2 linked regions of the Homo sapiens genome follow. The protein of the gene in region 2 purifies or fractionates together with the protein of the main gene of each other region. This does not show direct contact. Each region holds a gene or a part of one and is shown on either strand. Other genes may lie near its edges.

Region 1 (3,500 bases), on a different chromosome or scaffold from region 2:
TCCCTGCTGGGGGAGGCCCAGAGGGTCAGGCATGGAGCACAAATGCCTTGCTGATGGTAGCTTCTCTCCTGTCCCCACAGAATGGTGCTGTGCCCAGCGAGGCCACCAAGAGGGACCAGAACCTCAAACGGGGCAACTGGGGCAACCAGATCGAGTTTGTACTGACGAGCGTGGGCTATGCCGTGGGCCTGGGCAATGTCTGGCGCTTCCCATACCTCTGCTATCGCAACGGGGGAGGTACCCAGTGGGCACAGGGCAGGGACCACCCACTTGGGTAGAGCCCACCCACCAGGGCCTGGGCCACCCTCTCCCTGGCACAGACCCACTCCAGATAAAGGCTGGCCTCTGGCCCTGGCCTCCTTCGCCCCCATCCCTGGCTTAGGCACCCTTTGCCTAAGGCAGGCCACCCCAGACCCTGGCAGTCTGTTGTTGGGGGCTGGCCCTGCCAGTTGGCCCCCTTTGAGGTGAGGAGAGGTGAGAAAAGGACCTAACCCCCCCCCCCCCCCGCCCACAAGGCTCCCTGTTCTATTCCCTGGGGTTCAGCAGCCCCCCTAAATGGTTCAGGGATGTTGAGGATCTCAGCAACTTATGCTTGTGAAATCGCTTGTTTAAACCATCAAATCCCACCCAAGTATGGAGGCTCTGGGACCTGGATTCCACTCCAAGCAGAATTCCTGAGAGCCTCTGTCAAGTTGAAAGACAGGCTGGGGGTGGTGTGCCTCAGCCCAGGCTCCTGCTCAAGCCTGGCACACTCCTCCCTGGGTCCTACCCAATCGCGAAGGTTTTGCTGTTGAGTTCTGAGCAGGAAGCCCAGGGTGAGATCCCTCCAAGCCCACTCCTGAGCCAGACCTCTCCCTGCCTACCAGGCGCCTTCATGTTCCCCTACTTCATCATGCTCATCTTCTGCGGGATCCCCCTCTTCTTCATGGAGCTCTCCTTCGGCCAGTTTGCAAGCCAGGGGTGCCTGGGGGTCTGGAGGATCAGCCCCATGTTCAAAGGTGAGGCCTGGGCGGGGCACTCGCTCACACATACACAAACACACAACGGCCTCTGAGGGCCGTGCCAACTCGCCCATCTGTACAAACATGGCTGACCTCTGTAGAGCCCTGATGCTGACCCCAAGCCCCACATCAACGGCCTAAGCCATGGATGCATGCTGGGACCCATGTTTACTTGGCTGCCACCCTCCCCTCCTACCACGTGTACACACAAAACTCCTTTGCGCCACCCCCCGCCAACTTACCCCTACCAAGACCTTGACCTGGCCTTCCTTTGGCCCTCCATCTCAGCCTGCCCCTTGGGCCCTTAGAAATTATTAACCTCGGGCCAGGCACAGTGGCTCACGCCTGTAATCCCAGCACTTTGGGAGGCCAAGGCAGGCAGATCACCTGAGGTCAGGAGTTTGAGACCAGCCTGACCAACATGGAGAAACCCCATCTTGGCCGGGCGCGGTGGCTTACCCCTGTAATCCCAGCACTTTGGGAGGCCAAGGCAGGCGGATCACAAGGTCAGGAGATCAAGACCATACTGGCTAATACGGTGAAACCCTGTCTCTACTAAAAATACAAAAACAAAATTAGCTTGGTGTGGTGGCAGGTGCCTGCAGTCCTAGCTACTCTGGGGGCTGAGGCGGGAGAATGGCGTGAACCCGGGAGGCAGAGCTTGTAGTGAGCCAAGATCATGCCACAGCACTCCAGCCTGGGCGACAGAGGGAGACTCCATGTCAAAAAAAAAAAAAAGGAAACCCCATCTCTACTAAAAATACAAAATTATCCAGATATGGTGGCGCATGCCTCTAATCCCAGCTACTCGGGAGGCTGAGGCAGGAGAATCGCTTGAACCTGGGAGGCGGAGGTTGCAGTGAGCCGAGATCGCGCCATTGCACTCCAGCCTGGGCAAGAAAAGCAAAAACTCCGTCTCAAAAAAAAAAAAAAAAAAAAAAAGGCCGGGCGCGGTGGCTCACGCCTGTAATCCCAGCACTTCGGGAGGCCGAGGCAGGCGGATCACGAGGTCAGGAGATCAAGACCATCCTGGCTAACACAGTGAAACCCCGTCTCTACTAAAAATACAAAAAAATTAGCCAGGCGTGGTGGTGGGCGCCTGTAGTCCCAGCTACTCGGTAGGTTGAGGCAGGAGAATGGCATGAACCCAGGAGGTGGAGCTTGCAGTGAGCCAAGATTCCGCCACTGCACTCCAGCCTGGGTGTCAGAGCCTGGGCAACAGAGCTAGACTCCATCTCAAAAAAAAAAAAAGAAAAGAAAAGAAAAAAAAGAAATTATTAACCTCACCTCCTCCTGCTGGATGCTGAGGCTCCTCCCCCCACCCCTCCCCTCCTGCAGGAGTGGGCTATGGTATGATGGTGGTGTCCACCTACATCGGCATCTACTACAATGTGGTCATCTGCATCGCCTTCTACTACTTCTTCTCGTCCATGACGCACGTGCTGCCCTGGGCCTACTGCAATAACCCCTGGAACACGCATGACTGCGCCGGTGTACTGGACGCCTCCAACCTCACCAATGGCTCTCGGCCAGCCGCCTTGCCCAGCAACCTCTCCCACCTGCTCAACCACAGCCTCCAGAGGACCAGCCCCAGCGAGGAGTACTGGAGGTGAGGCACCTGCAGGACCTGGGGTGGGGGGAACCTGGTGGCAACCCTGTCCCCACTGGGCAACCATCTGAAGACAAAGTAGGGTGCCTGCTGCAGGTTCAGCCCGCTGCTGGGCTGGGAGAGGGTAGAGGTGAGTGAAGAGTTTAGGAGAAGAGCCTGATGTACAGAAAGCAATGGAAGATGGAGGCCGGGCACGGTGGCTCATGCCTGTAATCCCAGCACTTTGGGAGGCCGAGGCGGGCAGATCACGAGGTCAGGAGATCGAGACCATCCTGGCTAACACGGTGAAACCCTGTCTCTACTAAAAATACAAAAAGAGAAAAGAATTAGCCGGGCGTGGTGGCAGGCACAGGAGAATGGCGTGAACCCGGGAGGCAGAGCTTGCAATGAGCTGAGATCGCGCCACTGCACTTCAGCCTGGGCGACAGAGCAAGACTCCATCTCAAAAAAAAAAAAAAAAGAAAGAAAGCAATGGAAGATGGAATGTTGAGTTGCAGGATCTTTACAGAGTAGCCGTGAGGAAGGCCGTCAGAAATCCAGCAAACCAGCCTTCAGAGGAGACTCAGGGGAAAGGGGGGCAGATCCTGGGGAGAAGAAGAGTGTGGGCAAAGGCTCTGTCCCAGATGAGCAGAGGCTGGCCCCAAAGCTGAAGGGAGCCTACTCTGATGAGAGTAACAGGTGTGGGGAGAATGCATGGGCTTCAGGTGGCCTAGGAAGTGGCACTGCCTTCATAAAGAACTTGCCAGGATTAGGCTTAGACTTGATGATGCAGAACAAAAGACGCCATGGAAGGTCTCTGAGCCGGGGGTGCCGTGATCAAGACATCCTGGCACATTTTGTTCAGAGGCGACAGAGACCAGAGTCTCAGGCCATCCTGCTGTGCCCTCCAC
Region 2 (4,129 bases):
ATGGGTTTGAATAAAAGAATATATAAGGGGATCTATTCAGAATTTTTAAGTTAGCTCTGGATTTTGCCATTAATCAATCACATTCTTTGTTATATAGCCCACCCACCTTAAAAAGAGGCATAGAAGTTAAGAAATGACTGAAATGGCAACTATAAACCAATACTTTTTCATTGACCAGATTTAATATTGGTATGAACATTGGCATATCAAAAATGAAAAGCAAGAAAGAAGAAACATTAATATATTATTAAGACAAGGCCAATTCCCTGCACTGATTTTTGTAGGGCTTAAAACTGTTCAAAATAATCCAGAAAAAGGAGGAAGCCTTAGGGTGTGTGGCCAAGAAAAGCACAGAAAAATCTCTCTGCAGTGCACTTGCATGTTTAAAGCTGATTATTGTATTTTTCATCTAGAGAGACTGAGTGTTCATTAGGGTCTTGTGTCCCTAGGCAGGAGATGCTGAGCATAATTGGAGTTTCTATTTGATTGGGCAATATAGTCTAGAGAAGAAACTGGGGTAAAGATAATTAATAGCTTGCTAACAAAGTCTGACAGCCACAAGATTTCAACCAAATTTATTTCACACTGCTTCATTTAGCTCTGAAAAAGTTTTGATAGAATTGTAGGCTCCTTAATTAACACTTGAAAGCAAAAGAAACATACCTTCTATTTTGCTGCCACATTTAGTTATGACAGATTTTCTTACTGTTTTTCTTCTTTTTGTAAAAACTTTATTTGCTATCCAATTATATATCTCACAAACGTTATGTTTGGGAAGTGTTTAATTGTGCATTTTGAACCCAGTCATAATTGATTTTAAAGGGTGGGGTGCAGCGAAATGAAAAACCCAATTAGTAACTGGTAGACAGTTTTACAGAACCGCAATATTAATGAATTCATTATGTTTATTCATTCACTAATATTTTGCTGATCCTTGGACTTGATGTGTTTTGGTTGTGCTCTTCAAAAAATCAAATTTTAGTTTTCTTAGTAAATCTATGCGTTTTTGTAACTCTGTTTTTATTTCAGGGTAATAAATAGATGTGCGTTTGTCTGTGTGTATATATATGTGTCCAAACTAAGGGGCATATCTCTGATTTAATTTTCCCATGGTAAAACCTGGCATATTATCATTAATATTTGTAGTAGTTGGTAATGTTGATATTATTGATTGTGGCACTTTTAAAGGATTAATTTTTCTTTACTCATTTCGGAAGAGATGAATATTAGTCATCTGTCACTTTGGGTCAGGTATAAGTGATTCTCCCTGAATATAAGCAAATTTATTCTTTATGTTTAGGCTGGTCAGGATATTTTTATGCAGTCAGAGATAAATGAAAGGCATTGCTACAGCTGAAGGACTTTTCTAGTGGCTTTATTTATGTTGTTTCTGGATAATAAAATAACATAGATGAGCATTTTAGACAGATTTATTAATAGACAGATTTATTAAGAATGTTTAAAATAGCCTTATTATTAAAACCATTAGAGATTTTGGACTAAAAATTGAAAAAAAAATCAATTTTTTTTCTTTTAAATTCTAAATAAAATAATAAAAACAAACCCCCCAGATGTTGAGAAGACATGGATGGGCCTGTTGCACTCTTTACCTATATGCAACCATTTTGTTTCAGACCTAATTCAGTGAACAAAATTTTTTGAGAAGATACATTTAACTACTTTTTCAAGCTTTGTAGTATAAATGCATTTCTTCCAATATAAGATTTTCCTATTATAAGTTGCAAAGAATGGATCCTCTGCAAAACCCACTTGATAAGGGCTCTACTCATTTATTTTTCTTTCCTGCTACCCCAAACTCACTGCATACATCAGGCATAGCTTCCAGGGTGAGCTTTGTTAGTTTTTCTGAGTAGACTTAGCCATTTACTATGCTAGTCACATACTTCACTTGCCTAAGCAATGGATTTTGGTGTTCTATTGAAGAGGGAATATGGTTTGGAAGAGTGTCTCCCCCTCCTCTGAGTTCAATTTACTAGTTGAGATTTGCAAGCCTGAAATGCTTGAAGCAGCTCAGGCACGATAGCAGTGCAAGCTTTAAAATCTAGGTGTAGCTGTTAATCCTTTACAGAGGCACATAAGTCTCCAGGAGTAGCTCGGCTAGCTGTGAGCAAGATGTATGCTTTTCATGTACTGCGTACTCATGGGCTGAGGGATTATTGATTTTCTTTCACAGTTGTAAAAACAGCAATTGGTGATCATCCCACACGTACAGTACACACCAAGTTGCTTTCCTATCTGTGAAGAATCTCCTTGTATTCTTTAATATTTAACATTGAACTTTCCAACTTGCTGTTTTCCATAAGGCTCTTTTCACATAGCAATTACTCAAGACAGAAAATAGCCACTTACTATCTTTTATAAATGAAAGAAGGTTCTAAGAAACTTCTTACATTCAGCCATGATAGTGAAATTTTTCATTGCTGGCTTGCACGCACATATATTGCTTGTTGTGGTGACAGAGCAAACGTTCCTATTTGGATTTCTCATAGTATCAAGTCGTTTCTTTCTAGAGAGTAAAACCAAGCAAACTTTCTGGGACAATCATAAGAAAAAACATGGAAAACACTTACCAGGAAGACGAGAAAAAGCAATCCTATATACACTGCCGCTATAGCTGTAATTCCATTGACAGTGAATTGGAGTAATAGCCCTCCCCCGTCTCCCAAGCTCTGCGTCCAGTCCACACAAAGCCCACGGCAGCTGCAGGCTGAGCTTGTCCTGCTTCAGATCACTCCTACACTGAGGAGTGAGCGAGGGAGAGCATTCCAGTTTACTGCACACAGCCCACCTCCAAGTCTGAAGTTTAAAGCTTCACCTCGCAGTGGCTGAAGAAGGGGGTGATGTCATAGATGGGCAGGACTTAGCCAAGATCTTGTTCAGTGAGGTAACTGGATAATCAGACAGATGAGCTTTGCAAACGCTAGAGGGGGCGAGAGCAGCCAAAATGAAGCATCAGCCTGCCAAAGCTAGGATGCCATTTGGTTTGTAGGCAGCCCTTTGGAATCTCAACATTTTCTAAAGTTTACTACAAGGCAGTGGTAGCATACTTATGTATTTTTTTTAAAAAGCATGTTAGAAAGATATTTTTAAGATCACAATAGAAAAAGACAGGCTTTGTCTTATTTTTAAACCATCTGTATTGAAAAGAAGTTAACCAAAATCAAATTAGTTTTATTATTCACTAGCTAAAATAATGTTATAATTGTGGAAGATGTATGCCAGTAATCCCAACTGTGAATGTTTATTCAACATATGAATAAACAGCAGATTCAAATATATACATCAGGGCTGGGTGTGGTGGCTCACGCCTCTAATTCCGGCACTTTGGGAGGCCGAGGTGGGAGGATCACCTGAGGTCAGGAGTTCGAGACCAGCCTGACCAACATGTAGAAAAAATTAGCTGGGCGCCCGTAATCCCAGCTGTTTGGGAGGCTGAGGCAGGAGAATCACTTGAACCCGGGAGGCAGAGGTTGCAGTGAGCCAAGATTGCACCATTGCACTCCAGCCTGGGCAACAAGAACGAAACTCCATCTCCAATATATGTATATATATACACGTGTCACTGATTCATTTAGTTATGGGAAGGGCAATAGGAATGCCAAAAGATTTTTTTAAATGGTATTAAATGGTCTGTTCTTTTGGAGGCGAAGAAGTTACTGTTCTCTATGTTTTAGAAAATGAAAGTATGTTTTATGTACTTCTGCTACGTGTTTATATTATTTAAAATGGATTATTTATATTTAACGATCCCCCAATAAAATGTTTTTAAAAAATTTAATAGAATATTTTCCTTTCTAAATGTTTTTGCTGATCTGAGCATGGGTTTAGATATAAACATCTTAAGAAAAAAATCTTTCAGGGTGGTTTGCCTGGATTGAAATTATTTTAGTTTAATTTAGGTACATGAATAAACACTGGACAATTGTAAGACGTGGAGATTATAAATTTCTATGCCTAATTAACAGAATTATACTTGTATTTTTAATTATGATTTTTGTAGACTGGTTTCTGCTATTTGGTCAACAATTGCTTTGTGCCCGTAAGTTTTCCATCAAATAAGTGTATTTCACTTGTTCATGTTGGTGGTAAGAACTTAGCTTTTATATTT

The links.
Region 1: the proteins of FLRT3 (region 2) and SLC6A9 fractionate together in Homo sapiens (co-fractionation; one large-scale study listed by BioGRID). This does not show direct contact.

What each region holds. Positions count from the first base shown.
Region 1 is NC_000001.11:44,007,463-44,010,962, reverse strand, and holds part of SLC6A9 (sodium- and chloride-dependent glycine transporter 1), read left to right. Parts: intron 1-80; coding exon 81-237; intron 238-866; coding exon 867-998; intron 999-2,339; coding exon 2,340-2,610; intron 2,611-3,500. UniProt on the Homo sapiens protein: Sodium- and chloride-dependent glycine transporter. Essential for regulating glycine concentrations at inhibitory glycinergic synapses.
Region 2 is NC_000020.11:14,334,813-14,338,941, forward strand, and holds the start of FLRT3 (leucine-rich repeat transmembrane protein FLRT3 precursor), read right to left. Parts: upstream 2,801-4,129; 5' UTR 2,592-2,800; intron 1-2,591. UniProt on the Homo sapiens protein: Functions in cell-cell adhesion, cell migration and axon guidance, exerting an attractive or repulsive role depending on its interaction partners. Plays a role in the spatial organization of brain neurons. Plays a role in vascular development in the retina.